4 linked regions of the Homo sapiens genome follow. The protein of the gene in region 1 purifies or fractionates together with the protein of each later gene. This does not show direct contact. Each region holds a gene or a part of one and is shown in the gene's direction. Other genes may lie near its edges.

Region 1 (7,436 bases):
TACGAGTGCTTCCTATGTGGCAGCAACAGCAAAAACAACAGCAGCCCCAACTCACATTTTTCAGTGCTTCCTTTGAGCTTGGCGCTGGGCTAGACCTTCTCTGTTATCTCTGAATCTGCTCAGAACCCTGCCTGTGCCAGTACTATTACGACCCCCATTTTATACTAAAAGAAACTGAGGGTGGGTTACTCCAGTGAGTGGCAAAACCTGGCATCTTAACCTTGGTGTCACATGGACTGTGTCTTTTTTTTTTTTTTTTTTTTTGAGATGGAGTTTCGCTCTTGTTGCCCAGGTTGGTTGGAGTGCAATGGTGCAGTCTCATCTCATTGCATCCTCCCCACCTCCTGGGTTCAAGCGATTCTCGTGCCTCAGACTCCCAAGTAGCTGGGACTACAGGAGCACGCCACCACGCCCAGCTAATTTTTGTGTTTTTAGTAGAGACAGGGTTTCACCATGTCGGACAGCTGATCTCGAACCACTGACCTCAGGCGATCCACCCACCTCGGCCTGTGTCTTGATTGAATCCTGCCTGTGGGTTGGCCTCTCTGGCTCTGAGATGTTGGGAGTGGCACCTGGTTTCTGGTGGGAGGGAAGGAGATACTTGGGCTTTGTGTCACCCAGCTGGCTGATGGACGGACAGCCTCCTGGGTAGTAGCATTTTCAGGCTCTAAGTTTGGGAAAGTTCCAGGCTTCTGACTCATTTCTGCATCCCATCCCACCCTCACAGTACTTTCCCAAGCACCACCAGGCCAAAGGTCTCTCAGTTCAGAGCAGAAAGCCGTATACCCAGAGGAGCAGGCAGATAACAGAAACTTCCAGAAACCTCTGTGGAGACAGTGGAAGAGGCAAAAGGTACTGCTGCCTAGACAGCGCTTCCCATTAGGAAGAGTAGCCAGGGAAGTGGAAACTTCAGGCTACCCCCTGGGCTTGGAGCCCTGAGTCTGTCCCCAGGGGCTGACTTCCTGCATTCCTCTAGGGAGTTCCTGACAGCTGGATTCTAGAAGTAGAACTATGAGCTCACCTTTGGCCTCCCTTAGCAAGACCCGAAAAGTGCCCCTGCCCTCGGAGCCTATGAATCCTGGGTAAGGAGCCAGCCTCAGGGGTCTTTCTGTCCCCGCCTCTGTATCCTCTTCTATCCTTCCATGGCCAGAGGACAGTGACTCCTAGTGTCTTGGGGAATACAAAGAAGGGCCACATAGCCTTCCCTGACCACTGTCTTTTTCTTTATACCTTCTTCTGGGGCACCCAACTTTGGATCTGAGCATAAACTGGGTTGTGCTTTTAGTAAGGTATGGGCCCTGTAGGAGTGGCTTGGCATCCCATCTGTTCATTCACTGTTCATTGATTAATTCTGCAAACACAGATGGTCTACGGACCTATCCTGGGCCAGGCCCTGTGTGGGGTTCAGTAAAGGGAATCTTTTACATCTGTCTAGCACTTTCATGTTTTCAAAACATTTTTTACCTCTCTTCCTTCTTGCTCTCTGGAATACCACTTTGAGTCTTTTTTTTTTTTTTTTTTTTTTTTTTTTTAAAGACCAAGTCTCGCTCTGTCGCCCAGGCTGTGGATTGCAGTGGCACGATCTTGGCTCACTGCAACCTGTGCCTCCTGAGTTCAAGCGATTCTCCTGCCTCAGCCTCAGTAGCTGGGACTACAGGCGCATGCTATAACACCTGGCTAATTTTTTGTATTTTTAGTAGAGACGGGTTTCACTGTGTTACCCAGGATGGTCTCGATCTCCTGACCTCGTGATCTGCCCACCTCGGCCTCCCAAAGTGCTGGAATTACCAGCCACCGCGCCTGGCCCCACTTTGAGTCATTCTAAGGCCTAGAAGATTCAGAGAGGTTAAGCAACAGGCCTCACAGCCTTTGCAGAGCAGAGCTGGGGCTGAGCTCATGGGCTTTGCAAGCCTTGTAGTCTTCCCACCTAAGACTCTGCTCTTCACCCCTTCCCCATCCTTCTCCACTGGGTGAAGTCAGACACCTCGAAGCCTGTCCCTTGTCTCACCCCAGGCTGGGGCTGGGATTTGGGGCTGGAAGTCCTCAGGAGTTAGAGGCCCTGCTTCCATCTCTTTGAGCTTTGGCTGAAGTCCGGTGCCCAGAGCCTTATCCCTGGTATCATTCCAGGGGCCCTAACTTATATTTCTTCCTTCTTCCTGCCTGGGTTCCCAGGAGGCGAGGAATCCGCATCTATGGAGATGGTAAGTGTGCCCCGCCCTCGTGCCCTCTTCGCCTCTCATGTGCTTGCACCTCCTACAGTTGGACCGATGGAGAGAAATCACACGAGAAAGGCCCTTGTCAGCTGGAGCAGCGGCCTCCACCGTGTTCTGTGCAGCTCCCATGCTGTCCTCCCTGAGGGCTGGGCTTCCCTCCTGGAAGCTCTCAGATTAGGAGGCCCCATACCCTTGGCACAGATGTTGCCACTCACATTTGAACCCCTTGACCCACTGTGGGACTGGCCAGTGTGTGCCTAGAAACCAAGTGAGGGCCAAGAGATTACCCAGCCCAGGGGTTTGGATCCCAGCCCCCCTTCCCCCTCCAGCCTCCTCCAGTGTGACAGCCTTTCTCCCGGGAGGCCTGTCCACACATTGCCACCCTGACTCTTGTAGCTCAGGCCTTTGGATCCCTGCCCCCCAACTCTCCACCATGGCATTGGCATTGGCCATGCCAGTCCCCCTGGGAGCAGGACTGGAAGAACTCCAAAACAGCCCCATTCTGGTTGGATCCTTGCTCCCCAGCCTTGTGAATTCTCTCTCCTCAAACTCCCTGGGGCACAGTGCATAGGCCGCGTCACACTGGCGAGGGCCCAGGGCCTGAGTTTCCTCTGGGTCTCCGCCCCAGAGCGGTGACCTAGGCATCCCTGTCTGCAGAAGATGAGGTGGACATGTTGAGTGATGGGTGTGGCTCAGAAGAAAAGATCTCAGTCCCTTCCTGCTATGGCGGCATAGGTGCCCCTGTGAGTCGGCAAGGTGAGAGCAGAGGCCTGAAGGGTCTGGGTCCTGGCTGCAGGAGGGGGCCCCAGAGACGGGGCAAGGCCTAGGGAGGCATGGCCCTTCCTCTCGCCTGTTTGGTCTGAGGCAGCTGCTTCCACTCCTGGCTGATTGTGGCAGGGACCTGGCTTGGCATAAAGCCACACAAGCCCCACCCTTAGCTCAGGAGGCCGAGGCCCAGCCCCAGCCCCAGCCCCAGGCCAGGCTGTGGCTATAGTTACCAGGTGTGATATCAGTGGGCTCAGGATTCAGGGTCAGAGAGGGATGAAGTCTGAGGGTAGAGCTCAGCTTCCTGCTTCTGCAGGGCTCTGGCAAGGCCCAAAGTCGCCTAGACAGTCTGCTTAGCTTGGCAGAGGGCTGTGGCAATGCTGAGCTCATGGAGGCACCTAAAGTGGGATGGGGCTAATCAGGGTGGCTTCCCAGAGTGGGGATTTAGCAGGTCTGAGAAAAGGGGAGACATGGGCAGGCAGGGATGAGCCCTGCAGAGTGCTGGGCGGGATCTGGGGATGCTGGGGATAAGGTTAGAACTTTCCACTAGCTCACTAGCTGTGGTATCTTGAGCAAGCAACTTCGCATCTCTCTGTCTCTGAGGCCTCCTCTGTGAAGTGGGCATGGGAACAGCGAGGGCAGCGTGTTGGGAGGATTCAATGAGATGCTCCTCGGTGGAGGGCCCCTGGCCAGCGCCTGTCACGCGAGGTGCTCAGTGTGGTGGCTGCCCATCAGGAGGCCAGCCATAGGGAAGGGCCTGATGATTCTCCCTCAGGCCCCTTCCATTTTACCGGAGGAGGGAATTGAGGTGGAAAAAGAGACAGGAAGAGCCTGGCCTAAGGTTCTGCGGCCATTTCACCACAAAGCCAAGATCTCCTATACCCTGGCTGGGGTCAACTTTCTTTTTTATTTTATTTTTTTTGAGACAGGGTTTTGCTCTGTCATCCAGGCTGGAGTGCAGTGGTGCGATCATGGCTCACTGCAACCTCAGCCTCCCAGGCACAATCAGTCCTCCTGCCTCAGCCTCCCAAAGTGCTGGGATTACAGGCATGAGCCACCATACCCAGCCAGGTCACTTTCAGTAGTAACCATGGCAACCAGGTTCTCTCTTTGAAAGAGCTCCAGGTGTCCTCTCCCTGCTTTCCCCTGTCATCCCCTCCTCTCCCACTCCCAGCCAATATCTGTCCCTACCAAGGTAACAGATGAGGACTTGCCTATCTTATTTTACTTCTCTGCCAGCAGTGTCCTATACTGTCCACTGCTCCTTCCTTCTCAGGACCTCCACCAAGCTCTTAGGCACCAAGCTGCTGCCCTCCCATTACCCTCTGCTTCTAGGCTCTGTCTCTTAGCTGTCATCACCACCTCCTTTTTTCTCTCAGGTTTTTTTTTTGTTTTTTTTTTTTTTGGAGACTGCCTTGCTCTGTTGCCCAGCCTGGAGTGCAGCGGTGCAAATCACTACTTACTGCAGCCTCGACCTGTCAGGCTCAAGCAGTCCTCCCACTTCAGCCTCTCAAGTAGCTGGGACTACAGACACACACCACCATGCCTGGCTAATTTTTGTATTTTTAGTAGAGACAGGGTTTCTCTATGTTGCTCAGGCTGGTCTCGAACTCCTGGTCTCAAGTGATCTGCCCGCCTCGGCCTCCCAAAGTGCTGGGATTACAGGTGCGAGCCACTGCACCCAGGCCCTCAGCTTTTCAATGTGATGTTCCTCTGGCCTGGATTCTCCTCTGTGTCCACTGTGCCCCAGTGAGCTCACCTGCACTCCATGTGTAGACAGTTCCCAAATGTTTGTCAATTAAGATGCATTTAACTATAAGTCAAAGAAAACCCTTCCTCAGCCAACAAGAACATTAAGGAAGTTTTGTTATCCCACATGCAAAGAAATCCTAAAGAGGCAGCTCCAGGGGTGTTAATTCAGTGACTCCAAGACATCATCAGGGGCTCAGGTTTCTCCATCTTTCCACTGAACCTGCCTTGACATGTCAGCCTCATGTGGTTGTAGGATGATGGCCGCGGTTCCTGCTTCATACATAGAAAGGACACTGTCTAGGGGAAGAAAAGGAAAAGGCCTGCTTCTTCCTGTAGGTTTCTCTTCTTTTCCATTTTCATACTTTTTTTTTTTTTTTTTTTTTTCTGAGACAGAGTCCCTCACTCTGTTACCCAGGCTGGAGTGCAGTGGTGCGATCTTGGCTCACTGCAACCTCCGCCTCCTGGGTTCAAGCGATTCTCGAGTAGCTGGGATTACAGGCACCTGCCACCACGCCCGGCTGATTTTTGTATTTTTAGTAGAGGCAGGGTTTCACCATGTTGGCCAGGCTGGTTTTGGACTCCTGGCCTCAAGTGATCCACCTGCCTTGGCCTCCCAAAGTGCTGGGATTACAGGCATGAGCCACCGCATGCCCGGCCCTGGCTACTGTTTTCTACAGCACCCCGCATTCTGGCTTTGTCTGGCAGTTTGCCCGTGGGGTATTTGCCTCACTCCTCTATCTGCTGTTTTGCGTACCAACTGGACACTAGATTTGGAGGTTTGATTAGATCGAGGGTGAAATTCTTGGCAATGCTTCAGGGTGATGTCACCCATATGTTACACCACTTCCTTGTATATGTTGGACAAATTACTTGATCCCTTTGTGTCTCAGTTTCCTAAAACAGTTCATTTACCTCCTGGGTGTGTTTCAAGGATTACAGGGGGTTGATCTACATGAAGTGTTTAGAACAGTTCCTATGATGCCAGTGGGAGCTGCTCTCAGTACCTTCATTTCCATTCCTGGGACCCCTATCCTCCTCCCTCCCCCCCACAACTCAGCCTCGGCTCTAGGTCTGGGCTCTAAAGACTTTGTGTGCTTGGCAGTCCCTGCATCCCATGACTCGGAGCTGATGGCCTTCATGACGAGGAAGTTGTGGGACCTGGAGCAGCAGGTGAAGGCCCAGACTGATGAGATACTGTCCAAGGTGGGGCTCCAGGTGGGAGAGGGCCAGGGGCCGGTCTGAGAGGTGGAGGGACTGGGCTGGGGAGGCCAGGAGTTGGACTAGGGTGGGTGATTCTAGAACCGTCTACCACACTGACCTGCCCAGTTCGAGGACCAGGTGTGGCCTGGGCCTGATCTAGGTCCTGTGACCTGAGCCGAGAGGCTGGGGGGTCTTCCCCTCAGCTGAGCAGGACCCAGTAGACCCTGGACTGGGTGGCACAGTGGACTGCTGAGCAGAGCGCGGCACCCTCAGATGTGGGGGTCCTCAGGTGTGGGCCGCACCTCTCCCTACCTCAGAGGAACTGCGAGGGTTATCTGAGGTCCGGGAGAAGTGGCTGTGCCAAAGGGTGGCAGGGGCTTGCTGCTCCCCAGCATCCAACATAGGCAAAGCTCTGGAGCTTCCTGTCTGGGCAGGGCTCTGGGAACCACAGGCCCTGTGCTCACCCTGTGTCTTATGCTACAGGATCAGAAGATAGCGGCCCTAGAGGACCTGGTGCAGACCCTCCGGCCACACCCAGGTAGGGGGCTCTTGGAGGGCTGACCTGCGCCCCCAGTCAGGCACCTCCCCTGGGCCCAGGGCTCCTGGAAGCTTCACAATGGCTTCTGGCATCAAGAGCATCAAGCTGACTACTTGGTGGGGTCTGGACAGCTGAGCCCACAGAGGGGCTGCAGCATATCCAGGACAGTGCTGGAGTCACTCCATGCCCTCCTACATGGGACCGAGTCCCATCTGAAGTGTGGAGGAGAGGAGGCTCTGAGGGGAGTGGCAGCCTCCTAGGGCCCATCAAGGCACCGCCACGGGGTCAGAGGAGAGGCCAGAGAGGTGGGGGGCCAAGAGGCAGTTCTTGGGGGATCCCCAGAACAGCTTCTCCAGATGACCCTCAGGGCAGAGGTGACCTGGCAGTGTCTTGCTGGGGCAGCTGAAGCCTGTCCCTGTCTTTCCCTGAAGCCGAGGCAACCCTGCAGCGGCAGGAGGAACTGGAGACGATGTGTGTGCAGCTGCAGCGGCAGGTCAGGGAGATGGAGGTGAGAGAGCTGGGCCCCGGGGGATGCGGGCAGCCAGCAGTCCCCAGCTCTTCACGGCATGTTCCTCAGGAGCTGGGTCCGAGCCCACCTCTCTGGGCCTCTCCTCGTCACATCCCACCCAGGGACCCTGCCCTGCATTTCCCTACCCAGGACTGGCCCAGACTTTAAAGAGCCAGGGAGGTGTCTGGGGCTGGGGCACACCCCTGCTTTTGGGCCCTCTGAACATGCCTCTCCCCTGCTTAGCAGACCTCATGGCTCCCACTGAACTGAATTCTACAGTCCTCGCTGTGGCCCCTGCGGGCTGGCCCCTGCATGCCTCTTCATCTTAGCTTGAACCACTCTCCCCTCCAGCCATGAGGCCCTTCCTCTGGGTCTTTGACCTCATGGAGCTGCTTCCCACCTCAGGGCCTTGGGCCGTGCTGTTGCTGTTCCCTCTGCTGAAATGTTTCCCCACCTCCCC
Region 2 (7,436 bases), on another chromosome or scaffold:
ATTTTCACCTTGAGTAGGCTGAGGAGGAAGAGGAGGGGTTTGTCCTGCTGTCTCAGGGAGGCAGAGAGGGAAGAAAATCCACCAGTAAGTGGACCCAGGCAGTTCAAATCCATGTTGTTCAAGGGTCAACAGTGCTTTATTCTTCAATGAAAAATAAAGTCTCATTCTGTGTTGGCTGAAATTTAATATTGTTAATTTATTTTTGATTTCCTACAGGTGAACTGGCACAAAGGTTAATCTCAAGATGCCGCTAGTGAAAAGAAACATCGATCCTAGGCACTTGTGCCACACAGCACTGCCTAGAGGCATTAAGAATGAACTGGAATGTGTAACCAATATTTCCTTGGCAAATATAATTAGACAACTAAGTAGCCTAAGTAAGTATATATCAATTAAAAATATACTCACAAACCAGAATGTTATGCTTTAGCGTATTAAGAAGTTGTGCTTCTGATTAATTTGGGAGTATGATTTGGTGAGAAGAGTACAAAATTATCCTGAAAAATATAGTCACATGAGTATAATTATTGAGTTTTACAAGAACCTCTTCTGCATGATGTTTCTTCTGGGAAAGGAAAATACGGACAGAATCTCTAGGAACAGAAACACATGATGAATGAAAATTATTGAGATTGTTTTAAAAATATATAATCTGCGAAAGGACCAGAGTTGTACTTTTCCTTGGTTATTATCACTATTTACTCTGTTTAGAGGCCTCAACTATTTGTGTTTTCAAACACTAGTATCCCTCTCTTTATATATATATTTAATTAGTTTAGGGAAATATTTTTATATTAGCAAAGATCTAAGGTGAGAGGTATGGGGTCATTATTAGTCAGAGGGGTAGGCTAGTCAAGTGGGATGTCTAAGAGACATTAGGATATAAGTCAGGAATCTGATATGCAGCATTGTGTGAAAACAGCAAATGAACTTGGCCTCTGGCAGACAGAAGTCAAGCAGGTTGGCCAGAGAATAAAGGCCAGTGAAAGAGGCAGATTAGGGAGAAGGAGACAGGCAATATGTTCTCATTGCAGATTTACAGAATAGAGCAACTTGGTTAAGGAATTAAACAAATTATTTTCTATTCTAAGTTTATTTAGAAAATTTAAAAAATCTGGTCTGTCTTTTGCATTGAAGGATTAGCTTTTTCATAAGACATTGATATTTCATTTTAAAGGTGAAACAAGGTGTTCTTGGCAGAGATAATATCCACCAAGTGGTCCTAGATTTATCTCATCAGCCATATAAATTCTCCTGATAAGCAGGCTTGGCTTTTCTTTTCTTTTCCTTTTAACTTTTGTCCTTTCTTTTATAATTGAGTACTTAGCACAAGAGGTTGTTAATCTAATTTGTTTCCGGTAAGAAAGTTTAGGCATACCTGTAGCGAGAGCAACATAAAAAGTTACATTTGAATATTCTCTGTGAGAGTACTAAATTTTTGCATTGCCTGTGAAATAGTAAGAATAAATAAAAGGCTATTTTATTTGAATTTTAAGTATATTCCTTGTTCCATTCAGTGGTCATTTTTTTCAGGTTAGTGAATCACTAAAATATTGTATTGTTTACTTGAGGCTAATAAAAAAAGTGTTAGAGTTCCCAGTTTAAATATGATTAACTATATTGTTTAAAGATATTTTGCAGATTTTTTGTGACCTAGCACGGATTGAATCAAGTATAACATGATGTCATATAAAATTTGTTTTATATATGTTATGTACATACATAAGTATATAAGCATGCTAATATTAAAATACATGTTAAGAACATAGAAATGGCATTAGTAATTTTGTATAACATATTTCTTAAAATGAATTGTGGATCCAGTACAGGCATCTTATTTTAGGTATATACCCAATATAGAATTTAGAACTAATATTGTGATTAAGGGTGATAATTTGCAGTACTAACCCATTTGTTACAAAACTTAAAGATGAAAATTTAAGGAATTTTTAAGTCTATATAGTCCATATAAGCAACATCTATCAGCAGGCACATGGTTATGCTGTAGCGAAACTCTGAAAATTATAAATACCTTGTAACAATATAACTAAATTAGGTGTTGGGTGCTTCACATTTAGAATCAGAGACCTGGAAGGCATTGTTTAAGCAGTTTGTAGAGATTCAAAAACAAAGAGAAAACCCATAAAATATTCTAGCAAGGTGTGACAATAGCTTACTGCCCTGAAATTAACTTCTCTGGCAGCTTTCCCACTTGACATAGTTGAGAACCTGGAATTAAATTTAAAAGGCCTCTAGATAGCCAGAATAAATAAACTCATGCACTAAAGACCATGCACATAAAATAACCAATTGATCCCTCTCTCAAAACCTGTTTACTTTTACCTTGATAGTTCAAACAGATTTGATGATGTGGTTTCCAAACAGTTATGCTTCAGAGGATAAAAGGAGGAAGCATGGGAGGAGATACTAGAAGGAGGCATCACTGAACCCAACCAAAAGGAGGTAGTTCACAGGAAAGGACAAAGTGATGTAAGGGAAGATGCAACATAAAAACTGGAAAGAAGCCATTTAATGTAAAGCAAATATCCTTATACATTTCAAGGCTGTTTTCTGGCCTAGGATAATATTTGATTTTCATAATTCATGCCCGTGAGTCCCTAAGAAAAAATTAAATTATGTTTAATTTTATATTCCATTTAAGAAGAGGGAAGCTTAGAATACATTTCACAAGTTTCCATCGAAAATAGTTAAAATAACAATTGATGTATTAGATAATAAAATCTGAATTACTTAGAAAACTTGGCTATCCAAAATGTTTCTAGATAATGGAGATTTTCACTTTGGTGCTATTATTAGTACTGAAAGTGCTTGAGAATATAGCAATGAAAGTAAACTGCAGGGATCCACATGGCTCAGGGCTGGATATCTTCCTGACCTTTTCCTCACAAAAATGTACTTCCTTTTTTTATTTTTTTGAAACAGAGTCTTGCTCTGTCACCCAGGCTGGAGTGCAGTGGTGCGATCTTGGCTCACTACAAACTCCACCTCCCAGGTTCAAGCAATTCTTGTACCTCAGCCACCAAAGCCGCTGGGATTACAGGCGAGTGCCATCATGCCTGGCTAATTTTTGTATTATTTTTAGTAGAAATGGGGTTTTGCCATGTTGGCCAGGCTGGCCTTGAACTTCTGGCCTCAAGTGATCCACCCGCCTCGGCCTCCCAAAGTGCTGGGATTACAGGTGTGAGCCACCATACCCAGCCAGTACATCTGTTTTTTGTGAGATTTTTCCTAGTAGAACATAATTCTGTTTTGTATTAGGTAATTACCACAAACCTATAATTCACTTTATATCAATTTCCTCTTTCTCATTTTATTGCTTTCTTAATGATGCAAGGTTTTTTACTCCTTAGCTGAGCTAGGTCCAGGTTCTTGTCTCACGATGAGGAAGAATTAGGCACACAGATACTCTAAGAGTGAATGGAGTAGAATTTATTAAGTGAAAGGAAAGCTCTCAGCCAAGAGAGGGGTCCTGAAAGCAGGTTCCAGGTTGCCCCGTCACAGTTGAATACAAGGGCATATATATATATATATATATATATATATATATATAGAGAGAGAGAGAGAGAGAGAGAGAGAGAGAGAGAGAGAGGAGAGAGAGGAGAGAGAGGAGAGAGAGAGAGAGAGAGAGAGAGACGCTGATGGGGCTGGGTTCCCTATTTGTATGAGGCACAGATTACTGGTGGCTTCACCACATTTCCCTAGTGCACATGCAGGCCCTTAGTCTGCTGTGGGCATGTTTAAGCAAGCCCCCTGTGCAAGTTCCCTTATCTGCACAAAGCATCTGGTGTAAGCCCTTGTGGGGTGGGTCAGAGGTTCTCTGGGGACCCTTCCCTTACTGTCTGCCTAAAGCAAGCTAGCTAACTCCTTTCATTAACAACCACTGGGATTCTGAATACCTAAGGGATCTCTTCCCCTGGCTTTTCTCTTATGGAATATAGTCAGTTCTTATTGCCAAGATTAGTCTTTTCCATCTCTGTATCTACACCTAGCATTTGTATCCCTACCAATTGTTGAATAAATGAGTAACTTTATACCTGCTTTTTCTTCCATTTGGGATGCTTCCCTTATCTGCCAGAGAAACTGTCTCTGGAAGTATCTTGATCACCAAATAACTTTTGACACCTGAAAGTGAGGTGCTTCTATCTCTGCTGTGTTGCTCTTACCTTATATTAAGAGCTGCCTGTTATTGGGCTCCTCTGTATGAGGTGCACTTCAAGGCTCTTTTCTTGCTTCTTTTAGAGACAGATGTTTTTATTCCTATTTTACAGATAAGGAAATTGATACCAAGGTCTCACAGTGAATAGAACAAATATTAGGACTTATCTATTAAATTGCTTTAAATATTTGCTTAAATGTCTGGTTCTCCCTCTGCTCAAAATTCAGTAATGGCAGGGATCTTCTTCAAGTTATTTTGGCTTACTCTTTTCAGTAATAAGAACTTACACAACTAGAGGAATACAGTGATTTTAGATTTATGATTTTTTTTTTTCAGAAGTTGTAACAAGAGGGTGTAAAAGATCTCCTAAATTTCTGAATCTATATCTTGGGCATCCCTGGGACAGATAATCTTCTAGGTCTTTGATGAATCTTGGGTTCTGCTACTTGGCCTAAAATTTATTTCTAGCTAATATAAATGCTGATTATATATAAATGCTGATTATATATAAATGCTACAGTCTACATATAAATGCTTTCAGATTGACAGGCATATTATTTGCATATACCTTTACATCATAATCTTCTCTAACCCTCATCAGGTGGACAGATATAGATAAAGCAAGTAATTTCCATTTTAGACACAAATCATTTAACAGAAAGTAGTAGAACAAGGTTTAAAAGCAGGCTTCCCAGGGTATCTCTTTTTTTTTCCCCACTTTGTCATGGCTGGGTGACTTTAGATAGGGTTTAAAGTTTAAAATACAGTTGGCCCTTGAACAGTGTAGGGGTAAGGGGCACAGATCCTCAGTGAAGCCAGAAATTTGCATATAACTTTTGACTCCCCCAAAACTTAACTGCCTATAGCCTACTATTGACCAGAAGCCTTACCGAGAACATAAACTGTTGCTTAACATGTATATTTTATGTTGTATGTGTAGTAGTATACTGTATTCCTACAATAAGGTAAGCTAGAGAAAAGAATATGTTATTAAGAAAACCATAAGAAAAAATATACTTACTGTTCATTAATTGGAAGTGGATCATCATAAAAGTCTTCATCCTCGTTATCTTCACATTGAGCAGACCAAAGAGGAGAAGGAAAAGGAGGAGTTTGTCTTGCTGTCTCAGGAGTAGCAGAGGCAGAGAGGTGGAGGAGGTAGAAGTAGTAGAGGTGGGCACACTGGTGTAACTTTACAAAAACACATCTTGATTTCTGACTTTTTTGCTTCTTCATTTCTCTAAAAATGTTTTTATATGGTACCAATCCTCCTTTTATTTGCTTTAGTTTTGGTACTGTATCATAGAAGGGTTCACGTTGTAAAATAAATCAAAAGTAGTCTTGAATAATTGGAACGCTTTTGCCAGATTCTCTAATGTCAATTTGTTTTCTGACACCACTTCTTCTATGTCTTCTTTTTTTTTTTTTTGGATTCCATTTTTTAAAATCGGAGATCTGCTTCTTTACTTTCTTTCTTATTTATTATGATACTTTAAGTTCTATGGTACATGTGCATAGTGTGCAGGTTTGTTACATAGGTATACATGTGCCATGGTGGTTTGCTGCACCCATCAACTCGTCATTTACATTAGGTATTTTTTCCTAATGCTATCCCTCCCCCAGCCCCCGACCCTCCGACAGACCCGGGTATGTGATGTTCCCCACCATGTGTCCATGTGTTCATGTTGTTCAATTCCCACCTAGGAGTGAGAACATCTGGTGTTTGGTTTTCCAACCTTGTGATAGTTTTTTTAGAATGATGGTTTCCAGCTTTATACATGTCCCTGCAAAGGACATGAACTCATCCTTTTTTATGGCTACATAGTATTCCATGGTGTATATGTACCACATTTTCTTAATCCAGTCTATCATTGATGGACATTTGGGTTGGTTCCAAGTCTTTACTATTGTAAATAGTGCCACAATAAACATACATGTGCATTTGTCTTTATAGTAGCATGATTTATAATCCTTTGGGTATGTACCCAGTAATGGGATCGCTGGATCAAATGGTATTTCTAGTTCTAGATCCTTGAGGAATTGCCACACTGTCTTCCACAATGGTTGAACTGACTTACACTCTCACCAATAGTGTAAAAGTGTTCCTATTTCTCCACATCCTCTCCAGCATCTGTTGTTTCCTGACTTTTTAATGATCACCATTCTAACTGGCATGAGATGGTATCTCCTTGTGGTTTTGATTTGCATTTCTCTGATGACCAGGGATGATGAGCATTTTTTCATATGTCTGTTGGCTGTGTAAATGTCTTCTTTTGGGAAGTGCCTGTTCATATCCTTTGTCCACTTTTTGATCGGGTTGTTTTTTTTCTTATAAATTTGTTTAAGTTCTTTGTAGATTCTGGATATTAAGCCTTTGTCAGATGGGTAGATTGCAAGGATTTTCTCCCATTCTGTAGGTTGCCTGTTCACTCTGATGGTAGTTGCTTTTGCTGTGCAGAGGCTCTTTAGTTTATTTAGATCCCATGTGTCTATTTTGGCTTTCTTGCCATTGCTTTTGGTGTTTTAGTCATGAAGTGTTTGCCCATGCCTATGTCCTGAATGGTATTGCCTAGGTTTTCTTCTAGGGTTTTTATGGTGTTAGGTCTTACATTTAAATCTTTAATCCATCTTGAGTTAATTTTTGTATACGGTGTAAAGAAGGGATCTAGTTTCAGCTTTCTTCATATGGCTAGCCAGTTTTCCCAGCACCATTTATTAAATAGGGAATCCTTTCCCCATTTCTTGTTTTTGTCAGGTTTGTCAAAGATCAGATGGTTGTAGATGTGTGGTGTTATTTCTGAGGGCTCTGTTCTGTTCCATTGGTCTATATCTCTGTTTTGGTACCAGTACCATGCTGTTTTGGTTACTGTAGCCTTGTAGTGTAGTTTGAAGTCATGTAGCGTGATGCCTCCAGCTTTGTTCTTTTGGCTTAGGATTGTCTTGGCTATGCAGGCTCTTTTTTTGTTCCATATGAACTTTAAAGTAGTTTTTTCCAATTCTGTGAAGAAAGTCATTGGTAGCTTGATGGGGATAGCATTGAATCTATAAATTACCTTGGGTAGTATGGCCATTTTCACGGTATTGATTCTTCCTATCCATGAACATGGAATGTTCTTCCATTTGTTTGTGTCCTCTTTTATTTCGTTGAGCAGTGGTTTGTAGTTCTCCTTGAAGAGGTCCTTCACATCCCTTGTAAGTTGGATTCCTAGGTATTTTATTCTCTTTGTAGTAATTGTGAATGGGAGTTCACTCATGATTT
Region 3 (7,436 bases), on another chromosome or scaffold:
CACCGGCGCCACCTTCCTGGCGGTCTGCCGGGGCAAGGTGAGCTCTCCAGGGCCCTCTGCCCTGACCTGGTTGCCTGTTCCCTGGTGGGTGCTTATGGCTCCCCAGCAGACTCTGGGCCCTGGGGGCTGCCCGGTCCCCTCCTTGGGTCCCACGAGAGCGACTGCTGGCCCTGCTGGGAGCGTGTCCTGCTCTGGGCCTGGGCAGGCAGGATGGGAGTTTCCTGGCCACAAGAGTTGGAGGTGGCGTCTGGGAGCTGTGGACCCCAAGTGGGGTCCTGACCCACAGATGGAGCTTCCTCCCACCCCTGGTTGGGGACGGAGCCTCGGGGAAGGTGGCTGGGCTGGGTGTGGGCACCAGGGAGAGGAGCCCCCACGGCCCCAGGCAGCTCCCTGGTGTGTCCCCTAGGCCAGCGAGGGGCTGGACTTCTCAGACACGAATGGCCGTGGTGTGATTGTCACGGGCCTCCCGTACCCCCCACGCATGGACCCCCGGGTTGTCCTCAAGATGCAGTTCCTGGATGAGATGAAGGGCCAGGGTGGGGCTGGGGGCCAGGTGAGTTACAGCAGGGTGGGGCTGGGGTAAGGCGGTCTGGTGACTGAGCCCCCGCCCCGTGGCCAAGGGAGCCCCCGTGACCGAGCCGCCTCGCCCCACAGTTCCTCTCTGGGCAGGAGTGGTACCGGCAGCAGGCGTCCAGGGCTGTGAACCAGGCCATCGGGCGAGTGATCCGGCACCGCCAGGACTACGGAGCTGTCTTCCTCTGTGACCACAGGTGCGTGCAGTCCGGTGGCAGGCGCGGCGCCAGGGGACACGCCCACACCCCACTGGGCCCCTGGACTCTCCTTCCCCACATGAGGCCCCGTCTCCTCCAGAGCCTCTCCGGCTACTCGGGGTCAGCGTGGGGCCCCTGCAGCAGATGAGGGTCTTCACTTCGGTGAACTGAACCCTTGAAGCGGCTGTGGGCAGGGCAGCAGGGCTATGGCCACCCCCCAGGTTCGCCTTTGCCGACGCAAGAGCCCAACTGCCCTCCTGGGTGCGTCCCCACGTCAGGGTGTATGACAACTTTGGCCATGTCATCCGAGACGTGGCCCAGTTCTTCCGTGTTGCCGAGCGAACTGTGAGTTCCTGCCCAGGGAGGGGATGAGGGTGTTGTCCCCAGAGGAGCCAGAAATGGGTCCACCCACCCCCATGGTTCTGCAGATGCCAGCGCCGGCCCCCCGGGCTACAGCACCCAGTGTGCGTGGAGAAGATGCTGTCAGCGAGGCCAAGTCGCCTGGCCCCTTCTTCTCCACCAGGAAAGCTAAGAGTCTGGACCTGCATGTCCCCAGCCTGAAGCAGAGGTCCTCAGGTGCGGACGGGCAGCGCTGGGTGGGCGGTGTGGGGGTGGCGGAGCGGGCGGCGTGGGGCGGGCAGCACCAGGCGCCCAGGGCGGAGGCGACTCACCTGGCTTTGTGCGCTTCCCCTCCCACCTCCAAAGGCTGCCTCTCCCTCCTAGGGCAGGGCCCCCACGGGCTGCAACCCTCCCCTACAGGCAGAGAACGCCCCAGGCAAGGATGCCCCCCGAGGCTGAGACTCCCCCCAATAGCAGGGAGGACACCCACAGGCAGGACCCCAAGTGCTGGGACTCTCCCCCAAGAGGGGCTTTGCCACAGGCAGGGACCCCAGCTGGGGCCCCCCGTGGGCTTCACTGCGCACTCGGGTGCCCCTGCAGGGTCACCAGCTGCCGGGGACCCCGAGAGTAGCCTGTGTGTGGAGTATGAGCAGGAGCCAGTTCCTGCCCGGCAGAGGCCCAGGGGGCTGCTGGCCGCCCTGGAGCACAGCGAACAGCGGGCGGGGAGCCCTGGCGAGGAGCAGGTACAGTTCCAGGGCCTTGGGATGGACACAGACCCTCTGTCTCCTGAGGCCAACCCGACCCCGCCCATCTGGCCTCAGGCACCTCCCCACACACCCCTGTAAATCCCCTGCCTGGCAGGCAGGCGGGCAAGCGGGCGGGGGATCCCAGCTGCCTGGCTGTCTGTGGGTCCTCCACCCCACCTCACCCACAGGCTGCTGGCTCCCAGGTGGTGCATGCCCTGGCCCTCCGCGGGTGCCCCCCACATCACTTTGGTTCTCTGGCGGGTCAGCTTGGCTCAGTGCACTCAAGGTCGGGTGCCCCTGCCACTGGCTGCGCTTGAGGCTGGCCTTTCTCCAGGAATGTGCTGCGGGTGGAACCCAGGTTCCTTCTTCCTTGGGGCCTTTTGCCCCAGAAGCCCATAATTCCTCAGGCCAACCCGAAATTTTCTCCCTGCTTCCTGCTGGGAGCCATTCCCCTCTTCCTGCCCATCCCTGCCCTTCAGGCCCCTGGAGTGAGCTCCAGGTGCAGGCACCAGGCACCTGTGTCCCCTTCCTGCCAGCCCCTCGCTGTGGTCGGACTGTCTTCCCTGGACCTGCTCTTACAAGTCACCACCTGCGAGCCTCATGAGCCGCTGGTGTGACTTGGACAGGACCAAGTTGTGGCACTGTCACCGGGGTGTGCTGTGCCCCCCTCCCCCGACCTCCATCTTGGCTCAGGGCTCCTTGGGACCATCTTCCCTGTGCGTCCAGGTGCTTTGGGACCCCAGAGTGTGTGGTTGGGGTCTGTGTGTGGTTGTGAGCTGTGTCCTCCTCAGGCCCACAGCTGCTCCACCCTGTCCCTCCTGTCTGAGAAGAGGCCGGCAGAAGAACCGCGAGGAGGGAGGAAGAAGATCCGGCTGGTCAGCCACCCGGTGCGTGAGCTGTCCCTGCACCTGTGCCGACCACCATAGACACGCATGGGAACGCAGCCGTGGGTGCCCCCAGCCACGGCTGGTCCCGATGGGACCAGGGAATCCACCCCCAGGAGCTGATGTCCAGGGCAGCTGTGATGCTGACGGCCAGGGGCTCAAGTGTGTGGTTTCTTCTGCAGGGGGCTCATGAGTCCCAGCTGGAATCAGGCCCCACCCTTGGGCAGGTTTGGCATGGGGCCTGCAGCACTGGGCTTGGCCCTGGCATTTCCCTCAAGTGTGGATGCACACCTGCCTCATGTGAGGGACACAGCCCATTCCTAGCCTTGGATCAAAGAACGGAGTTATAGCCGGAGCCAGGAAGCCCCCTGCCTGCTGGAAAACCCCAAGTGTGGCGGCCTTTGTCCATGTCCCTTGGCTTCTGGGAAGAACTGGGTGGTGCCCAGGCAGGGCTGGTGCCATCAGGAAGTGGGTGGCTGCTGAGGGGCCTGGGCTGGCGAGGGCCTGGGTGGGGAGTGCCTGGGCCGCCCCTGCCTTGGTTTCCACGTTTCCGTGTTGGTCTGGGGTGTGTAGAGAGATGGGCACTGCTCATCCGGAAGCCCCTCCTTGTGCGCTGCCATCCTGGGAGCCTCAGCCGCATCCGCTGTGGGGCAGGGGGCTTGAGGGAGGAGGAGAGAGACGGGCCATGCAGGACCCCTGGCTTGAGGCAGAGCCAATCTACCCTTTGCCCATTCACTGCTCTCAGTTCCCTGCCAGCCTCTCACTGTGTGACCTCAGACGGGCCCAGCCCCACAGCTTTCTTCCCGCAGCCCCTCCCTATGTCCATCCAGCCAGCCAGTTTCTCAGGCAGCAGCCCCACCTCGGCAGTCACTGTCCCAGGGAACGCTCAATGTTCCAAGGAAGGCTCTGCAGCCCCAGGGACCAGATGATGAGGCTGGCCCTGATGGAGCCTCGGGCCTGTGTCCTGCAGGAGGAGCCCGTGGCTGGTGCACAGACGGACAGGGCCAAGCTCTTCATGGTGGCCGTGAAGCAGGAGTTGAGCCAAGCCAACTTTGCCACCTTCACCCAGGCCCTGCAGGACTACAAGGGTTCCGATGACTTCGCCGCCCTGGCCGCCTGTCTCGGCCCCCTCTTTGCTGAGGACCCCAAGAAGCACAACCTGCTCCAAGGTGCCCTGGCTTGCAGAGGCCACCCACCCTGAGGGCAGTGCTGCCGCCGCGTGTGGGGTGGGGGCCATCTGGGTCCAAGGTGGTCTCTGTTCTCTAGAGAAAAAGGGGCAGATGGGGACAGACGCCCCTTCCTCTACAGGCTTCTACCAGTTTGTGCGGCCCCACCATAAGCAGCAGTTTGAGGAGGTCTGTATCCAGCTGACAGGACGAGGCTGTGGCTATCGGCCTGAGCACAGCATTCCCCGAAGGCAGCGGGCACAGCCGGTCCTGGACCCCACTGGTAAATGGGGCCCCAGGTGGGACCCTCAGACTCCTGCGTGGAAGGCAGTGTGGGCCAGAGTCCTGGGCTGCTTGGGGTGGGCATCCTCGGGCCCTGCTTGGCCCCGCCTCTCTGTTCCCCTATGGGAGTGATGGGGGCCTCCACCTCCACCACCAGCACCAGCAGCACCACCTCCACCTCCACCTCCACCTCCACCTCCACCACCACCTCCACCTCCACCACCACCTCCTCCACCACCACCACCTCCACCACCACCACCACCACCACCACCTCCACCTCCACCACCTCCACCTCCACCACCACCACCTCCACCTCCACCACCACCACCTCCACCTCCACCACCACCTCCACCACCACCACCTCCACCTCCACCACCACCTCCACCACCACCACCACCACCACCACCACCACCACCACCACCTCCACCACCACCACCTGCACCACCACCTCCACCTCCACCACCACCACCACCTCCACCTCCACCAGCAGCAGCATCACTTGTTGGGGAGACCCTGTGCAACTCCATGCACAGCCCTGTCCCTGCCATAGCCCCGACCCCTAAGCACAGCCCTGTCCAACTGCCACACGTCCCCTGCCTCCCATGCATGGTCCTGGGGGGTCAACTGCACACGCCAGGGTCCTAGGGTCCTAGACCCCTGTCCTCCCTGTTTCTGCCTCTGTTTGGGGTGGAGTCCAAGTCTCCAGAGGCGGAAGCATCTGTGTTCGTGTGTTAATGAACAGCCCCTACAGAGTTCCCCTAGTTCACCCAGGGGGGAACCTAGCCTGTTGGGACGACCCCAGATCCCTTCTGGGCTTGGTACTCACTGGGATATCCTCATGCCTGCACCCAGCCTACGGCTCTGAGCTCCTGAGTGGGGCTTTGGCCTGCCCGCCACTGTTCCAGCCCCCATCCAGCAGGCTGGTGTCTCCTCTGATGCCCCCAGCACCCAGGCGTGTACCTGCCTGGGTTTTCCCGCCCTGGTCTGAGGTGGGTGAGGCCTGGCCTCCCTAGCCAGCCCTGCCCCCCCACCCCAGGGAACTTTCCAGATGCTCTCGACCAGCTTTGTGGCTCTACATCTCTTCATCAGGAAGAACGGCGCCGGATCCCAAGCTGACCGTGTCCACGGCTGCAGCCCAGCAGCTGGACCCCCAAGAGCACCTGAACCAGGGCAGGCCCCACCTGTCGCCCAGGCCACCCCCAACAGGTAGCTGACTCCTGAACCGTGTGCAGCCTACGACTTGGTGGGTCCCTCAGTGGCTTCACGAGGCTAACTCTTGAGTGTGGCCGGGGCTGCCCCTGTGGGGAGCCATCTCATGGTGGGGACTGCTCCCGGTTCTGCACCCCGCAGTTGTCCTGAGCAGCTCTCCAGGAGTTCCTGGAGGAAGGGCGGGCAGGGCGGTGGGACTCTCAGTCCTCCACCCCAGCGCCACTCTGAGCCATGCTACTCCCACACCAGGAGACCCTGGCAGCCAACCACAGTGGGGGTCTGGAGTGCCCAGAGCAGGGAAGCAGGGCCAGCACGCCGTGAGCGCCTACCTGGCTGATGCCCGCAGGGCCCTGGGGTCCGCGGGCTGTAGCCAACTCTTGGCAGCGCTGACAGCCTATAAGCAAGACGACGACCTCGACAAGGTGCTGGCTGTGTTGGCCGCCCTGACCACTGCAAAGCCAGAGGACTTCCCCCTGCTGCACAGCAAGTGGCCCTGGCGTGGGGAACAGCCGGTGGGGTGGGGGGCAGGGGACAAAATGGGGGCTGTGCCGGGTCTGATTGAAGCTCCCCGCAGGGTTCAGCATGTTTGTGCGTCCACACCACAAGCAGCGCTTCTCACAGACGTGCACAGACCTGACCGGCCGGCCCTACCCGGGCATGGAGCCACCGGGACCCCAGGAGGAGAGGCTTGCCGTGCCTCCTGTGCTTACCCACAGGGCTCCCCAACCAGGTAGGGCACCTGCCTGGCTGCTCCTGGCAGCGCCCCAACCGCACGCAGCCCTGGGAGTGAGCAGCAAAGCCCCAGGCCCCCCTCAGACTCAAGTCTCTGTCTCCAGGCCCCTCACGGTCCGAGAAGACCGGGAAGACCCAGAGCAAGATCTCGTCCTTCCTTAGACAGAGGCCAGCAGGGACTGTGGGGGCGGGCGGTGAGGATGCAGGTCCCAGCCAGTCCTCAGGACCTCCCCACGGGCCTGCAGCATCTGAGTGGGGTGAGCCTCATGGGAGAGACATCGCTGGGCAGCAGGCCACGGGAGCTCCGGGCGGGCCCCTCTCAGCAGGCTGTGTGTGCCAGGGCTGTGGGGCAGAGGACGTGGTGCCCTTCCAGTGCCCTGCCTGTGACTTCCAGCGCTGCCAAGCCTGCTGGCAACGGCACCTTCAGGTTGGTGCCTGGCCACTACAGTTCCTGCTGGGTGTAGCCCCAGGTGATGGGCTGAGGGGGAAAGGGCAGGCCCTTGTCCTGGTGGCAACGCCTGGCAGACGTGTGCAGTGGGCCGGTTGTCTCACAGGCCTCTAGGATGTGCCCAGCCTGCCACACCGCCTCCAGGAAGCAGAGCGTCATGCAGGTCTTCTGGCCAGAGCCCCAGTGAGTGCCCACGGAGGCCCCCAGCACACCCAACGTGGCTTGATCACCTGCCTGTCCAGCTCTGGTGGGCCAAGAACCCACCCAACAGAATAGGCCAGCCCATGCCAGCCGGCTTGGCCCGCTGCAGGCCTCAGGCAGGCGGGGCCCATGGTTGGTCCCTGCGGTGGGACCGGATCTGGGCCTGCCTCTGAGAAGCCCTGAGCTACCTTGGGGTCTGGGGTGGGTTTCTGGGAAAGTGCTTCCCCAGAACTTCCCTGGCTCCTGGCCTGTGAGTGGTGCCACAGGGGCACCCCAGCTGAGCCCCTCACCGGGAAGGAGGAGACCCCCGTGGGCACGTGTCCACTTTTAATCAGGGGACAGGGCTCTCTAATAAAGCTGCTGGCAGTGCCCAGGACGGTGTCTTCGTGGCCTGGGCTTGGTGGTGGGAGTTGAGGGACAGGGAGTTGGCAGAGGCCCCTCCCAGCCTGCCATGTGACACTGTACTTCCTCCACGGTGGGCTCAGCCCTGCCCTCATCCTCACAGCCGCAGCCAAGCTGCAGTTGGTAGGGGATCCACCGACACACCAGGCTGCCTGGGCTGGTCTCTGGGTTGGGAGCTGCCCCAGGTGCTGAGGAGGGCAGCTCCCTGGCTGGTGAGGCCCCTCCCAGAACCACCCTTGGACTGAGCTCTGGGGAGG
Region 4 (7,899 bases), on another chromosome or scaffold:
AAAACAACAAAAAAGGAAAGCTAAATCTATAGTTTTATAGAGCAGGTGCAAATAAACATGTGTGAGTTATATTACCAAAGATTAGGCATACTATAAGATGAATCTAATTGGATGTGAGTGGTCAAGATCAAGGCTGTAATTAATTCTTTATTTTATTTCATTTTTTTAACTTTTCAGATCAGCTGTATTTCTGGCATCTCTTCTACTGATTACTGGAGATACCTCATGTGTCTTTATTCTGGTCTCAGTTACTCTTCTGCTCTACTGAGTTGCAATCTCTGGCTAAGTCTTAACTCCTTCCTTCATTTACTATGGATACTGTTGCCCTGTCTTTTCCTCACTGTTGCCCTGTCTTTTCCTCATTCTCTTTCTTAATAATTTTTTGGGGAATAAATGTTATACCTTGTGGTCTTTGCCAAGCAGAAGAACAGGACATGAATTACTGTTAAACCACAGGGAAATCTATTGTCCTTTTCCACTGTTGTTCACCCAGGGTTGGTTTCTCTGCATTATGGTCTCACCAAATGCAATTTTTTAGAATGGCACTTCCTTGAAAAGCTCTATTAATTTGTTATTCACTTATGTCTGACTCTTCCCACAGCTTGGGCCCTTTTTCTTTCTGCATTCAATTTTGTCAGAAGGTGGTGGCTTCCCAAAGGAAGGGTTGAAGGACAGACAAAATTACTATGTCTACTTCTCAATTCCCAGGCTATTTCAAAGAGAAATTTGTTCATACATTTCTAGTCATACTTAGTAATACCTGGTTAGAAGTTTAATGGGAGGAAAAACATTATATTTGTCTTTAAGATCAAGTGGAACACTGAAGTTTGATGGGAGGAAAAACATTATATTTGTCTTTAAGATCAAGTGGAACACTGCCTTTGATGGCAGACCTCCTAATCAAAGGGCTTTATCCTAAGAACCTATAGAGATACCCTTAATCAATTTTTCTCACTTCTTGCCTTATATAGAGAAGCAACACTGGGTTGGGTAAACTAAGTGATTTTAAAAAAAGAACGCATAAACATTCTTTATGATTAGCAAAAGATATTACAGAAATAATTCTCATGCTAGTTTCTGGAGAAAGCAAAGCTAAAGAAAGCCATCTAAAAAAGCTGATGTATCGGTCAGGAAAAAATATGGCAGACTCTTAACTGTGAATTGAAGAAAGTGAAGGAACTGTTTATAAAGGTTTGAGCAGGGTTATAGGACTCTAGAGGAAACTATAGAATCATGTTCACTGGATGCATGAAAAATGTAGTGCCATCCAACTGTCTTGTCACAGTAGTGCACCAACTTTGGAGTCAGACCGATAAGGGATCCAATATCAGCTTTACCATTTTCTATGGGTGTGATCTTTGGCAATTAAAAAAAAAAACTGTCTGCATTTCAGTTTTCTCATCTGTAAAATTAAAGATGATAATATCTCTAAAGGTTTTTGAAAGAAGTAAATGAGAAAATGTAGCTCAAATTGTAACAACATCTGACACAGTGCAAAAACCATAACTATTAAATCTAGTTATCCTCCCTTATTTTATTCCTATTAGAGATATTATAAAGTTGGCCACAGAAACTTATTATTGAGGATCACGTTTGAGGATTATTGAGAATCACGTTTGGCTGTAAGTAAATAAAAAAAAAAACAAATAAAAAAGCTAGAAGTTTATTTCTCTTTCGTACAAAACCAGGTCTAGACAGGCCAAGTTTGACATGGCTGTTGTGTTCTAAAAAGCCCACATACACCTTCCATTTTTATGTTTTGTCATCCTTACTGAGTGGCTGTTGTCTTCCTGGTTCAAGATAGTGGTCATTGCATCCTTGTTGGGTGTGGCAGAATGAAGGAAGTGAGGAAGAACTGGCAAATGGAGAGCAGCAGCAGTCCCTTTAGGAAGGTTCTTGACAGCTTATATCTTACTGGTCAGAACATAAGCTGCAAGGGAGGCTGGATGATGGATGTACTTTTCCTTTTTTTTTTTTTTTTTTTTTTTTGAGACAGAGTCTCACTCTGTCACCCAGGCTGGAGTGCAGTGGTGCAATCACGGGGCTCACTGCAACCTCCTCCTCCCGGGTTCAAGTGATTGTCCTGCTTCAGCCTCCCAAGTAGCTGGGATTACAGGCACGCATCACCATGCCCGGCTAATTTCTGTATTTTTAGTAGAGATGGGTTTCACCATGTTGACCAGGCTGGTCTCAAACTCCTGACCTCAAGTGAGCCATCCACCTTGGCTTCCCAAAGTGCTGGGATTACAGGAGTGAGCCAGCGTGCCTGGCCTCAATTTCTCTCTTTCTTTCTTTCATCTCTCCTTCCTTCCTTTCCTTCCTCTCTCCCTCCCTTCCTTCTTTCTTTCCTTTCTCCCCTCCCTTCCCCTCCTCCCTCTCCTCCTCCTTCCCTCCCTCCCTCCTTTGCTTGCTTGCTTCCTTCCTTCCTTCCTTCCTCTCTCTCTCTTTCTTTCTTTCTTTTTAAGACAGGGTCTTGCTCTGTCACTCAGACTGGAGTACAGGGGTGTGATCACAGCTCACTGCAGCCTCTGCCTTCCGGGCTCAAGTGATCCTCCCACCTCAACCTCCAGAGTAGTTGGGACCACAGGCACGCCACCACCCCCAGCTAATTTTTAAATTTTTGTAGATATGGGGGTCTCCCTATGTTGCCAAGGCTTGTCTTGAACTTCAGGACTCAAACAATCCTCTTGCCTTGGCCTCCCAAAGTGTGGGGGTTACAGGTGTGATGGAGCTTGAGCCTAGCAGTTGAAGACCAGCCTGGACAACATAGGGAGACCCTGTCTCTACAAAAAAGTTAAAAAGTTTAAGAAAAATTCCCGTACACTTGTTCTTTTTAATGCAAAATGTAGAGAAAGACAAAAATTGTAATTCATCTACATCTAATCTCTTTTACGCAAATATATACATTTCATTACAGTCTAGGGCCAGTATGTCTATGAATTAGTGACAATAAATATTGAATAATGAGACTACTATCTACAGCGTTCTCCTATTGGGTACTTCCTGAGTTATAAGCAGCTACTAGTATTCAAGTTTATATGGCAACATGATAGTTTTTCTTGGGGAGTAAGAGTTGTGTTCAAATTTATAATACAGTGCCATTTTCTTGTTCTCCCTATACAGCAGTTTTTAAAAACTAGAAAATGAGACAATCTTTTATTGGTAGCACTCTGTAATTCTGCGTCTAGACTTAGTTATTTGTAGTCTCCCTAAAGGAGCACATATTTCCCCAATGTTCAACATTTTTAAATTTTCTTATCTGGCTACCCCAAACCCCTCCTCGCAGCCTCCCCTTCTCAGGTCTGCCCTTACTATTCCAGGCCCCACAACCTTGCCTCCTCTAAATTAAAATGTTAACTATCAGGCTGAGAAGTAACCAGATAAATTAAATTCCTTGACCAGTTAATGACTAGTAATAGCTCGACAGATGATCTCTCTGAAGTGTTTGTATTCTTAAGACTCTCTAGGTACAAAGCATTCATTCAAGGTACTGCAGCTTTGTATATAGAATTTCAGGCACACTGGCAGGTATGATTATGACTTCTTTTGGTGGGAACAGGACTCTTTTAAATGCCCCTTAGATTAAATCCATTCAGTCCACTCCTTCTTTCTTGTTGGAATATTAAAATGAAGATTTCTTTACGAATAGTAGATATAGTAGCTTTAAAAAATATTTTAAAGCTATTCATTACAATTTCCTTTTCTTAAAGAGTTTTGATAAATCCAGTGATGGCTTATTACTCTTAGAATGTCTTATTGAATGTGGCGGGACATTTTGTTACTGACTTAAAATTAATGAATATAATATAAAAAATTAACATATCGAGAAAAGGCAAAGCCAAAAATATTAGAGGCCTGAGTCCTCTTGGCTGAAGTTTCTCACCTCAATTACGTAAGTCCTCAGTTAGTTCACTTTTGGAATCATGTCTAATACATTTGACAAGGGAGTAGCCTTGGAGTGTCGCTAAGAAGAAATTGATCAGGAAAAATGAGATGGCAAAGAAGAATGTTTCCAAGAAGAAGTGGGATTTAGGGTGGAGGCTGTAAAAAAATGGGAGCGGTTCCTTTAGGCATTGAACAAACATTTATTTTTTGCCTTCCACATGCCAGGACCTACTGCGTCTCCTCCGGATGGGTGCTCCTCGCCGACAAAGTCTAGATTGTGATTATCTCAAGGACTTGAGTTACCCTCACTTCCGACCTCCTCTCTCACAAACTGGTTCCAGGCGGGGAGACTGAGGATGGGCTGGGGAGGCTGGCAGAGGCGATCCCCACCTCGCGGAGCACAACATCTGCTGTGTTCTGCGGCGAGCGCCTGTCAAGCAGTGGGAGGAAAAAGCGCTTGGAGCCACCAGCCCACTCTTAAGCGAAACTCGCCTGGAAAACACCCCGCCTCCCAGCAGAGTTTCTGCCGGTTTCTTTAGAAGGGTGGTGCGGAAAAGCAACTTTTGGGAACTTGAAGGAGTGGGGTGTGGGGCGAAGTGGAAAGAGCACACAACGCGACCCCACTCAGTCCCCGCTTGGGACTCCCATCCCGGCATCAGGCGTAGTGGGCGGTCCGGGCCAGGGCCAGGGCCAGAGCGGCGGCGGCGAGGCCATGCCGAGGGCCCGTCGGCCGCAGTTCCCCGTCCGGCCTCGCGGGGGCGCCGGCGCTGCCGATCAGGTGACCGAGGGCCCGTCCGGGGCTGCGGGAAGCGGCCTCGTTCTCAGCCGCCGGAGACGCCGCCGCCGCCGCCGCCGCCGCCACACCTAGTGGAGCAGCCGGGGAAGGCGGCTCGTTGGGGGCTGGGGCGGAGAGCGCCGGGGGTGGGGGCGGAAGGGCGGCGGGCGGAAGGCAGGAGGCTGCCGGGGCGCGGGCTGCTGCGGGAGAAGGGGCTCCGAGGAGTCCGCCGCGGCTCGCTCTGTCGCCGGCGCGGGATTGGGGCGCGAGGGCCATGGGCGCGCTCTCCTAAGGCGGAGGTCGCGGGCGGGAGGGGAGGAGGCCCGAGAGAGGCTGCTGCGAAGGCCGCGGGCCCGTGACTGGGCGCGAGGCGGCCGGCGGCGGCGGCGGCACCAGCACCACCATGTCGCGCTCAGTGCTGCAGCCCAGTCAGCAGAAGCTGGCGGAGAAGCTCACCATCCTCAACGACCGGGGCGTCGGCATGCTCACCCGCCTCTACAACATCAAGAAGGTGCGCACGGGCCGGGGAGGCCGCGGCGGAGGCGGGCGGGCCCGGGAGGGATGAAGGGCAAGGGAGGCCGTGGGGTGGGGGCGGCAGGAGGCGCCGGGTGTAGAAATCTCGGCGTCGCCGCCCGAGGCCCGGCCCGGGGTCGCCTGGATGCGCCGCGGCCTAATGCGGAGTCCCGGGCGCCTCTCCCTGTGGTTCGCCGGCCGGCCGAAGGCAGAGAAGCCATTTCCCGGCTCCCGGCGGCGGGATCGGGCGCTGGGCCTCGCACGGGGTGGGGGCGCCGCTGGGAGCCGGGAGCTGTCCCCTCCTCGGCGCCCCCGCCCCCATGATGGGGCCCATAGGAAAGGGAGGGTGGTGGGTGGGCGAAATTCTAGGTGGGTAGGAAAACTTGAGTGTTCCATATTCTTACGGAGATGGCAGCAGTGAACAGGGATTACACCCCACATCCCCATTTTTTGGTGTGGGAATGTGGGTAGAGAAGGGCTGATTGGATGAATCCCGTATCCCCTCCACTTTGCCACTTTATTTTAGATTGCTAAATAAAAAGCCATTGAGAGTGTGTTGACGATTTGGGATTATTTCATTTTGAAGGTGGAGAGGAGGGGGAAGTGAGGGTGGAACCAATTTTCTGAAATACTTCTAGGCTGTGAGTCACTAGAACTGGAATAACAACCTTCTACTCTTTCCCCTGTACTCCTCCTCATGTTAGATTTTCCAATACCATTTCTTAAAGTTCGGTGTCTGTACAAAATAAAAACCGTAAAAATGTTGCAATTGCTGCTGATTTATAGCATAGTCTGATAATTTGAGCAACTATAGCTAATAGGCCCATTTAAAGGCTTTTACATGTCCTCAGTACAGTAAGGAGTGGAAGACCACTGGAAGTTTAGAAAAGTCCATGTAAAGATAGAACAAATAATTACATTCATTATCGTAGGACAAAACAACAAAATCTCTCCCCTTAAGGCAAGGTTGGTAAGTTTTAAACAATTTGATAAAGAGAAAAAGAGATATTTGGAAAATTTAGATCCATCGAGTTTCCAATGTGTCTTTGATGTCATACCTTCATAACTATTTGTTGGCTTTTTAATATATCGTGAATGTTACCGTTTAGTTTAATCATAGCAATAGATTGTAGGTTGAGAGGGCTTCTGAAGAAAGGTTTTTTTTTTTTTCTTTGGAAATTCATTTCCAAGCGTTTGAGTGTAAAATTGATTTATTTTTTACAATTTGATGTAGACACTAATTCTAAAGAGTGTCCTGGTTTAATGATGATAAATTTTGGATAAGGACAAAGTCTGGTTGCTCACCTAATTGCAAGGCTTTATTACTCTAAACCCAGTGCTATCTGGAGAGTAACTGCAACATGCTTACTCAGTTTGTTACCTTTTATGTGGCAGGAGCTCAGTGTCATGACAAAGAAGCCCCTCTGCATTTACCAAGGAGCCTAGGTTATAAATTTATATAGGTTAGGAATAATTCAGTTTTAAATAGTATTACTTAGAGGTTGCATTGACCTGAACTGTTCGGGGAGATTGTGCTGCTTAAAAAACTTGGAAATTGATTCCTATATGAATTTTGTCCAAAAATGAACAAGTCAAATATTATAAAAGTTACTAGACCTGTGGTATTGTGGTTTAAAGGAAATGGTTATGATGGTTTCTAAAAGAGGAAGTGAGAGTAACATCAAAAGTGATTTGGGTATTTGGGCAAAATACCTTTTCTAAGCATTTATTAAACATTTTTGTAGGATAAATGCAATCAAACTTTAATATCCCACCTTCATAAATAAGATTAAATGAAATTCTGGGCATTTGAACTCTAATAATTCCAGTTCATTGCCTTTTCTCAAAAGCACTGTTTTTTTCACTTCCTGTTTTGGGAAGCTTCAGCCTCTTGTATTATTGAACTTGTGAAAGTTAAAATGCATTGAATGTGATCATTATTATATCCATGTCAAATATTTTGATTTATTGAAACGTCATATTTTAGCACTTGCCTTATATTTTTAGTTTCTTAAGAAATACATTGCTTACCTTGCTTGAGTGTGAATTTTCTCTGGGCAGGGACAGTGTAATTTTTGAAATACTAGAGTATTTAGGGCCTTATCTGATACTCGAGGCCTTCAGTTAGGCCAGGTTGAAATGAATGAATTACTTCCCTCCTCTCTCTCAAAACCTGTGTGCTCTAGTTTTAATAATAATACCCTTGGGTTTGCTCCCTTTGTGTAATTTTGCATGTAAATGAATCAGATAAGATTTTGGATCTTTCAGCCTATAGAATTGTCTGTGAGTCTGGCATATCTTCCCAGCTGGCTAGGAATTGAAACATTTGTTCAAATATCTTGCCAAAGAAGTGAGTAAGATCTGTTCACCATGTGTTTATTAGGTTCATGCTGTCTGCATTCTTACTGCATTATAAACCACATACTCTTTTCAATCTCAACCTCTTCTAGTCTTAAAAAAAAAACCTTCCACCTCATAATACATGTTTGCCAATCAATTATCACATTTTCATTAATGCATGTGCATTAGATTGTCTACCAGATCTAATTACTCTGTTTCAATTGGAAGTATACAGTGGAAATGATATTTTAGTGAACATATACAATGAAAAATAGTTAAGTAAAATAACTTATTATTGTCAGTAATATGCTTTGGCGCTTATTAGGGAAGTTGGAGCATGATTACTGAAGAATGTTTTTTTTTTTTAATTTCATCAGTCAAAAATT

The links.
Region 2: the proteins of UBXN11 (region 1) and WASF1 purify together in Homo sapiens (affinity purification with mass spectrometry; 3 studies listed by BioGRID and IntAct, with this or other methods). This does not show direct contact.
Region 3: the proteins of UBXN11 (region 1) and RTEL1 purify together in Homo sapiens (affinity purification with mass spectrometry; 3 studies listed by BioGRID and IntAct, with this or other methods). This does not show direct contact.
Region 4: the proteins of UBXN11 (region 1) and NCKAP1 purify together in Homo sapiens (affinity purification with mass spectrometry; 2 studies listed by BioGRID and IntAct, with this or other methods). This does not show direct contact.

Annotation. Positions count from the first base shown.
Region 1 is NC_000001.11:26,296,459-26,303,894, reverse strand, and holds part of UBXN11 (UBX domain-containing protein 11), read left to right. Parts: intron 1-727; exon of another isoform or gene 728-852; intron 853-976; 5' UTR 977-1,011; coding exon 1,012-1,082; intron 1,083-2,172; coding exon 2,173-2,201; intron 2,202-2,870; coding exon 2,871-2,969; intron 2,970-5,832; coding exon 5,833-5,933; intron 5,934-6,413; coding exon 6,414-6,468; intron 6,469-6,899; coding exon 6,900-6,976; intron 6,977-7,436. UniProt on the Homo sapiens protein: May be involved in the reorganization of actin cytoskeleton mediated by RND1, RND2 and RND3. Promotes RHOA activation mediated by GNA12 and GNA13.
Region 2 is NC_000006.12:110,120,410-110,127,845, reverse strand, and holds part of WASF1 (actin-binding protein WASF1), read left to right. Parts: intron 1-216; 5' UTR 217-244; coding exon 245-377; intron 378-7,436.
Region 3 is NC_000020.11:63,689,096-63,696,531, forward strand, and holds the end of RTEL1 (regulator of telomere elongation helicase 1), read left to right. Parts: coding exon 1-37; intron 38-406; coding exon 407-553; intron 554-654; coding exon 655-770; intron 771-991; coding exon 992-1,115; intron 1,116-1,198; coding exon 1,199-1,346; intron 1,347-1,709; coding exon 1,710-1,852; intron 1,853-2,646; coding exon 2,647-2,742; intron 2,743-3,709; coding exon 3,710-3,908; intron 3,909-4,047; coding exon 4,048-4,188; intron 4,189-5,276; coding exon 5,277-5,393; intron 5,394-5,645; coding exon 5,646-5,879; intron 5,880-5,970; coding exon 5,971-6,126; intron 6,127-6,232; coding exon 6,233-6,555; intron 6,556-6,682; coding exon 6,683-6,763; 3' UTR 6,764-7,150; downstream 7,151-7,436. UniProt on the Homo sapiens protein: A probable ATP-dependent DNA helicase implicated in telomere-length regulation, DNA repair and the maintenance of genomic stability. Acts as an anti-recombinase to counteract toxic recombination and limit crossover during meiosis.
Region 4 is NC_000002.12:183,035,264-183,043,162, reverse strand, and holds the start of NCKAP1 (nck-associated protein 1), read left to right. Parts: upstream 1-4,705; 5' UTR 4,706-5,063; coding exon 5,064-5,171; intron 5,172-7,899. UniProt on the Homo sapiens protein: Part of the WAVE complex that regulates lamellipodia formation. The WAVE complex regulates actin filament reorganization via its interaction with the Arp2/3 complex. Actin remodeling activity is regulated by RAC1.